2 linked regions of the Homo sapiens genome follow. Changing the gene in region 1 together with any one later gene gives a genetic interaction. Each region holds a gene or a part of one and is shown in the gene's direction. Other genes may lie near its edges.

Region 1 (4,283 bases):
TATAATGAACATCATCATTTGTATTTAAGATCTGTTCTAAATTTATATTCAAGTTAACCTTCAGTGTGAGTTATTTCCAGGCACAGCTTCTGTTGTCCATAGCCCAGTTGATGGTATATAAAGTACTGACGACTTTAAAGGTACTACTCTGCTTCCTAAGTTTTTACCTTCCTTTCCCCCACTACAATATCCTCTCCAAAGTGATCCCTAAAGTACTCCGGCTCTTTTCATTGCCTCTCCCCCAAAGGAAACTCAGTTGTTCATATCTGTTAAACCCACTAACTTCTTCCATTTTAACTTAAAAAAAAATTCCCCTCTGTTGCCTTTAAAAGTGTTTCCTTAGGAAGATCTGCATTTTAAACACTTATCTGCACGTTGTTCTACTAAAAAAATATACTAGAAAGGACCGAGAGTCAACGATTCTGAAGGAGTTTGTATCAGGGTCTCTTCTCCCTACCTCGTCAAGTTTAAACACACCCAACGCCTCGATTCCTTGCTTCCGACCCGAGTTGCTGCTTTACATATCCCTGTACATTTGAGGTGTTATTCGTTGATATTTCAATATATTTTAAAATAATTTTCCATTTCTGTTTTGTTAAATTTTTGAATACGTTCTTTTGTATCTCGTGTCATTTCTGCCTCTGGTAACGTTGTCCTTGGTATCCTTGGAACTCATTTCCTTTCTCAACACACAATATTCCCTGTCAGCTGCCACGGGCCCCGCCCTCCAGAAGTTCATACTTTGTGGTCAAGCAGCTTCTTTAACTTTTTAAGACGAATTACCTAGGAAGTGCTATTGTCCCAGGATCACCAGCTCTGCCTAAATTCCTAACTGTTGCGGGTGCTTAGTCACAGAAGATGAATCAGATTCGTCTAATGGGCCCTTTCCTTTTCCACCCACCTTTCCTGTCGCTTTCCGCTGAGCCTCCTCAACTCACGTCATCCCAGCAGGTCCTGGCCCCCAGACCCGGCCCTGGACGGCACGGAGCCCCAGCCCGGGAACGCAGCTGCGAGCGTCCGACCGGGAGACAGCGAAGCTCAGATCTCTCTGCAAAGCGAACGGAGAGCGCAAGGAATGCCCAGGAAGACAGGGCGCGCCCGGGGAGAAAAGAACGTTACTTTAACGCAGCCTCGACCCTGAACCCCCGGCATCTAGGGCTTCCTGGACGAGTGGAGCAAAACAACTCGCCCTGCTGCGTTCCCGGGCCTCTCCTTCCCCTTGCTGGTTTCCCCTTAAGTCTACTTCTCTATTGCTTCCAACCCCTCTCTCCGAAGGCACGTGGTCCTTCCCCGCCTGCCCCCGCCGCACCCCTCCGGGCCCGGAGCCGGCTCCTCCCAGCGTCGTTCGCTTCCCCTTTCCGTTCGCTCTTTCCGCCCCGGCTCTCCATCGCCCCTTCTGATTGGTCGAACGCACCGGAGCCTGGTTAGCCAATGGGCGAGCCGGGCTGGAGGCGATGGGCGTGGCCGCAGCGCCGGGGCCCTCAGATCGAGGCTGCCTCCCCCTCTCAGCCGGCAGCACATTCCGTCGCCTTGCCGCCGCCCGGCCCCACAGTTGTCTTTGCCGGAGCTGCAGTCGCGCTGGGGTTAGGGCGGGGGGGCGGGCGGGGAGAGGAGAAGGCCGCGGCGGAGGCAGGTGAGAGGAGGAAGGAAGCGGCGGCGCGGCGGGCACAGCAGCTCAGGCGGCGGCCCGGTTCCTGGGAGTGTCGGTGCGGCGCGTTGGTTGGGGCGGATCCCGCGGGGCCCGGGCGGGGGAAGGAGTCACCGGCCCGGCCATGGCGGACAACGAGAAACTGGACAACCAACGGCTCAAGAATTTCAAGAACAAAGGCCGCGACTTGGAGGTAAACTCGGGGACGACGCCGGAGGGGTGGGGGCTGTGGGCCTGGGGCCGGTCTCCGCCGGGACCCCGAGTGTGGGGATTAGGGGCGGGAGCCGCCTCCAGGCCTCGGGGAATGGCGCTAGGGGCCGGCCCGTCTGTGACGCCTCTGCTAGCGCGCCGGGAAGTTTATGTCGGGCCTGCTCCGCCTCCGCCGGGGAGCGAGGTGCCCGGGTACGGCCGGCGCGGCCTAGGCCTGCCCGGCGGAGCCGGCCCGGCGCGGGTGCGAGGGGCCGGGCCGCGCGGCGGGGAGGCCGGGCGCGGCGCGTGCGGAGGAGGCGTGCGTGTGCGGCCGGTGCTGCCCCGGCCGGGCCGCGGCCCCTTCCCCGGCAGTGGCGGAGATTCCGGCTCTCGCTCGGGCACCGACGTCTGGCGCCGCGGGAAGGAGGGCGGTGGGAATGGGAGGGTGAGCGTGTGGCGACCGAGTGGGGCTCTGAACTTCCTCAGCGAGGCCCGAGGCGTCTCCACTTAAAGGCATTTTTTCTGGTCTTCCCGACTCCCGCTTTACCCCTGCCTCCCCCCAATATCCAAACTACAGGACAACTTCTCCGTTGAAAAAAACACCCCCGGCGTGAGAGGCCATCCTGGTGATCCTAACAGTGCCTTCCAGCGGCCTGTGTTTTACTCTGGATATAGCTGATTCAAGATGTGGCTCACGGTGTGCCCTCTTCCAGGCAAAGGATACCCCTTATTTCAGCTTGTCCACAAATCTCTTTACCCCCTCCTGAGAGGAGACCACCAGCTGCATTCTTACATATAAAGTCTAAAGGGTTATACAAAGCTGTCATCCTCTAGTCTACAGTATCCTTTCCCTCCACCTGCTGGTGGTGGTAGTGGGGGATGGGGTGGGCTAGGGAATGGCACCATCACGTTTGATTATTTAAAAAGGAAAAAAAAAGCTTCATTGTCTTAGATACAGCTGCTCCCGAGATTGTCTACATAAGGTGTATGGGTTAAATACACACATGCACACACGCATACCCACACACCCCACTGAGATTTTTGATAGAAGACTTCTTCCCTTCAGCTTTTAAGAGTTTAGATAAATAGATTTAATACTTCCCTTCTGCATCTTAATCACGAGTTTAGCTTTTAGGGAAAGTGGTCAAGCAGTATTTTTTATGTTGTTCTCGGTACGTTTTCATAATGAAATCTTCAACTTCCCATGGCATTTCTGAACTTGAGAGTCTGCTTGACTGAGATATTTTTTGGGCTTTTTACAAAGCTGTTAATATTATCTTTAAAGTAGTTCAAGCGTTTTAGTGGGTTTCATAATTTGAGGGACGACTAAGTGTCCAGGGATGTTAATTCTGTGGTTCTTTTAAGGTTAACATATTACCATTGTGATCCCTTTTTTTAATGCAAAGATGTCACATCTTTATTGAGATAATTTGCATGCCATAAAAATGAGCTTCTTAAATAACAATGATTTTTCAGTAAATTTACTTGTTTATGAAAGAATGTGGTGAAAATGTTTTTTACTAATATGAATACTTAGAATGAGAAAAAATCACAAATGATAAAACTTAAAAACTGGTAAGTACCACAAAATTACAGAATCCAGAAAAATAGCAATTAGGTGCTTGACAGATCCCTATAACCCTTTTTTCCTCTACATTTCTGGCTTCATTTTTCTGGCAGCTTCATTGAGATGTAATTCGCATGCCATACAATTCACCCACTTAAAGTGGCTTTTAGTGTATTCGCAGTTTTGCAACCATCACCACAGTCCATCTTAGAACATTTTCACGGCCCCAAAAAGAAACCTGTACTCATTAACAGTCACTCTCCAATTCCCAACTACCCCAGCCCCAGGCAACCAGTTTTTGTCTTCTTAGATTTGCCTATCCTGGACATCCCATATAAATGGAATTGTACAATTTGTGCTCTTTTTTAACTGGCTTCTTTCACATAGTGTAATGTTTTCAAGGTTTATCCGTGTTGTAACAAGAATGTATCAATGTTTCATGGCCGAATGATCCTTATGGCCGAATGATCCAATGATCCTCCAGCTCATGGATATACCACATTTTATTTATCCCTTCTTCAGTTAATGAACATTTTCATTGTTTCCACTTTTTTAGCTATTTTACATAATACTACTAAGAACATTTTTGTGTGGATGTATGTTTTATTTCTCTTGGCTATATACCTAGGAATAGAATTGCTAGATCATATGGAAACTTACTTTGAACCTTTGGTGGAATTGCCAGACTTTCTGAAGTTATCCTTATTTTTTAAATTGATGTTTCCTCCTACCTCATATCTTTTGGCACTTTAGTCAAAATCAGATTAAGTCCTGAGGCTGTATTAGAAGAATATTGTGATGTGTGACTTTTAAAAAATAAGTATATATTGACATTAGCCAGGTTTTTTTGTTTTGTTTTGTTTAGAAATTCATAGTGCC
Region 2 (3,500 bases), on another chromosome or scaffold:
TTTTTTTTTTTTTTTTTTTTTTTGGAGACAGGGTCTCACTGTATCGCCGAGGCTGGAGTGCAGTGGCGCAATCATAGCTCTGGGCTCAGGTGACCCTCCTGCCCCCAAGGTAGCTGGGACTGCAGATGTGCACCACCACACCCGACTAGTTTTTTGTAGAGATGGGGTTTCGCCATGTTGTCCAGGCTGGTCTCAAACTCCTAGACTCAAGCTATCCGCCTGCCTGGGCCTCCCAGAGTGCTGGGATTACAGGTATGAGCCACTGCTTCGCCACGTTCACCTTTATTTACTTATTTATTTATTTTTGAGACGGAGTCTCGCTCTGTCCCCCAGGCTGGAGTGCTGTGGCACGATCTTGGCTCACTGCAAGCTCCGCTTCAGCCTCCCAAGTAAGCTGGAACTACAGGTGCCTGCCACCAAGCCTGGCTAATTTTGTTTTTGTATTTTTAGTAGAGACGGGGTTTCACCGTGTTAGCCAGTATGGTCTCGATCTCCTGACCTTGTGATCCGCCCGCCTCGGCCTCCCAAAGTCCTGGGATTACAGGCTTGAGTCACTGTGCCCGGCCCACCTTTTTATTTTTTATTTTATAGAGACAAGGGCTTGCTGTGTTGCCCAGGCTGGTCTTGAACCCCTGACCTTAAGTAATCCTCTCTGGCCTCCCAAAGTGCTGGGATTACAGGTGTAAGCCATAGTACTGGGCCTAAAGTTCACCTTTTTTTTTTTTTTTTTTTTTTTTGAGATGGAGTCTCGCTCTGTCACCCAGGCTGGAGTGCAGTGGCGTGATCTTGGCTCACTGCAAGCTCTGCCTCCCGGGTTCACACCATTCTCCTGCCTCAGCCTCCCGAATAGCTGGGACTACAGGCGCCTGCCACCATGCCCGGCTAATTTTTTTGTATTTTTAGTAGAGATGGGGTTTCACTGTGTTAGCCAGGATGGTCTCGATCTCCTGACCTCGTGATCTGCCTGCCTCGGCCTCCCAAAGTGCTGGGGTTACAGGTGTGAGCCACCGCACCCGGCAAAGTTCACCTTTTTAAAGTGTGTAATTCAGTGGCATATAGTACATTGACAGAGTTGCACAACTATCACCTCTATCAGCTTCCAGAACATTCTTGTTACCCCAGAAGGAAACCCCGTCTCTGTCAGCCATCACTCCCCATTCCCTCCCCAGTCCCGGCACCCACGCATTCCCTTCCTGCCTCTGGATTGGCCTGTCCTGAACATTTCACACGAGTGGTGTCACACACCGCGTGGCCTTTTGCGTCCGGCTTGTCTCACGGAGTGTGCTGTCCTCAAGGGGCATCCGCGCCGTGGCCTGGGTCCGAACCTCTCTGCTGTTCACGGCTGCGTCACTTTCCAGTGTGTGGAGGGCCACGCTGCGTTTGACTGCTCATCTGTGGCTGGACACTTGGGCTGCTCCCGCCTCTGCCTGTGAATTGTGGCTGCTTTGGTGCACGTGTGCTCAGCCGGCGTCCCTCTAGAATCCTTGAGGGCCTTGTTTCAGCCACATCAGGAGGGATTCAGGGACCAGGGCACGCGGGTCTGGAGCTGGGTGTTCCTGGGTCTCCATGTGCCTCCCAGTCCTGCTCTGAGCCGTGGGAGGCCGGGGCGAGGGCCAGGCCCATCTCTTCCCTGTATGATCTGTTTCTAGGCAGACGGAGGCTCCTAGCCCCACCTCTCTGTGAGCTTGAGTGGCGTTTATGACTCTCCTTCCTATTTCCTGTCCTGCTAATCAACAAGTCAGCTAAACAGTCCATGCTGCCTGGGCAAGCCCAGTAGGCCCCTAACGTGGCACCTCGGAGCGGCTGGCGATGCCCCAAGAGCCGGGCTTCCCCCTCCTGGAGGCTCTTCCTGTTCCTCGCCAAGCTCTTAGGTTTCGCTGGGCCTCCTCTTCTGCTCTTTTTCTGGCTGGAGACGTCAGAGGAAGCCTGGCGATCTAGAGAAGCTGATGTGCACCCATCATCCCGGAGGTGACTGCCACCAGGCGGGGGTGGCTCCACCCCCACTCCTCCCCTGGCATAAATCGGGGGACGCACGTGCCTGCGCAGAATGCCTTGGTCCCTTTTAATTAAACAGACAACCCAGTGTCCCTTGGTCTATGCTGACCTGCTCAGGAGTGCCTGGGCTCTTCCACGTTTCAGCTGCTGTGTGTCCTGCTGCTGTGAAGTGTCCCCGTTGAGGTGGAGGCAGGGCAGGGCGCCTTCGGTGAGGGCGAGTCCTCCTGTGCCCGTTTCCCCATCTGTAGAATGATGGCTCATGGAGGAGACATGGTGTCGGCAGGTGGTGGCCGGCGCAGGGAGGTTTCCAGGAGGGAGTCCTCCACCCTCATTTGCTTTTAGGGCCGTGCAGCCTCCCGAGCGGCCCCCACGAGGCTCTGAGGCTGCATGCAGGTTGAGCTCCTGGCCTCACTGCCCCTCCTCAGGGTTAGGACTGTGCTGGAGCCTGGGTGGGTGTGGGGTGGTCCCTGCACAGGCAGCAGGAGGTGGGCCAGAGCGGTGCTGGACCTGAAGGCCCGTGGCTCCCTCAGCTCCACTGAGGAGGCTGGAATAGTGTCCTGGGCCACCTTCCCTGCCGGTAGCCGGCTCCTGCTGAGGGAGGGGGTGCTTTCGCCTCCTGGTGGAGCATCAGGCTCTTGGGGCCTGTGCGTCCGAGCATCTGGCCTCTGCTGTCTGAAAACAGCACCTTCCCCGCCCCCCGGCCACCGCATCTCCTCTGAATAGAAGGCAAGTCTTGCCTCCCAGGAATGGCCTGTGACCTTCATCAGCGGGGGAGGTTAGGGGCACACAGAGCCCTGGGGAACAAGGGGATCTGGGGCTGAGCCGGGCCTCTCGGGCCCACCCCGAGCTCTCCTGAGCAGCCTGGCAGGCAGGAAGGCGCTGGGCCCCGGGGCCTTTGCCGAGCCCAGCCTCACCCTCAGCGTCCCCCTCAATGCCCTGGGTGCCTGCCAGGCTGTGGACACAGGCCCTGGCCAGTTCTATAAATAACCTTGCCGGGCCCTGCTGGGAATTGGTGCCACCACCACATAGCCCAGAGAGAACGGAAACACAGGGCTTCTCAGCGAGCAGACCAGGCCTGCGGTGACCAGTGGAAGTGGGGGACGCTTTCAGGGCTGGGCAGCCCGACAGGGCACCGGGCACAGCCAGGGGCCGGAACCAGTTGCTCACTGGCTCCGCTTCTGGGGGACTGTGTCCCTCTGTGCCCCGTCCCCATCACACCTTGCTTTCCCTTCATCCTGCTCTCCTAGCCCCTCCCCAGACTGGCGGCCCCTTGTCCAGGCCCAGCCCCAGCACAGCCTGCAGCCCTGGCAGAGCTCAGGCCTTGGCCTTCTGAGGTTGCCCTGAGGGCAGTGAGCAATGAGCCCTGGGACTGGTGCACTGGGAGGGAAAGGTGAGCCAAGGCTTCCTGCAAGAGGCAGCCCTGAGCTGGGGGTGGGGAAGGCTGGGTCGTGGGATACCCCTGACACCCCAAGTTTTTTTTTTGAGATGGAGTCTTGCTCTGTCAC

Evidence for each region. A genetic interaction does not mean that the proteins touch.
Region 2: changes in KPNA4 (region 1) and STK11 together harm fitness more than expected from each alone (negative genetic interaction), as found in Homo sapiens cells (one large-scale study listed by BioGRID).

Annotation. Positions count from the first base shown.
Region 1 is NC_000003.12:160,562,772-160,567,054, reverse strand, and holds the start of KPNA4 (importin subunit alpha-3), read left to right. Parts: upstream 1-1,483; 5' UTR 1,484-1,772; coding exon 1,773-1,841; intron 1,842-4,283. UniProt on the Homo sapiens protein: Functions in nuclear protein import as an adapter protein for nuclear receptor KPNB1. Binds specifically and directly to substrates containing either a simple or bipartite NLS motif.
Region 2 is NC_000019.10:1,212,278-1,215,777, forward strand, and holds part of STK11 (serine/threonine-protein kinase STK11), read left to right. Parts: intron 1-3,500. UniProt on the Homo sapiens protein: Tumor suppressor serine/threonine-protein kinase that controls the activity of AMP-activated protein kinase (AMPK) family members, thereby playing a role in various processes such as cell metabolism, cell polarity, apoptosis and DNA damage response.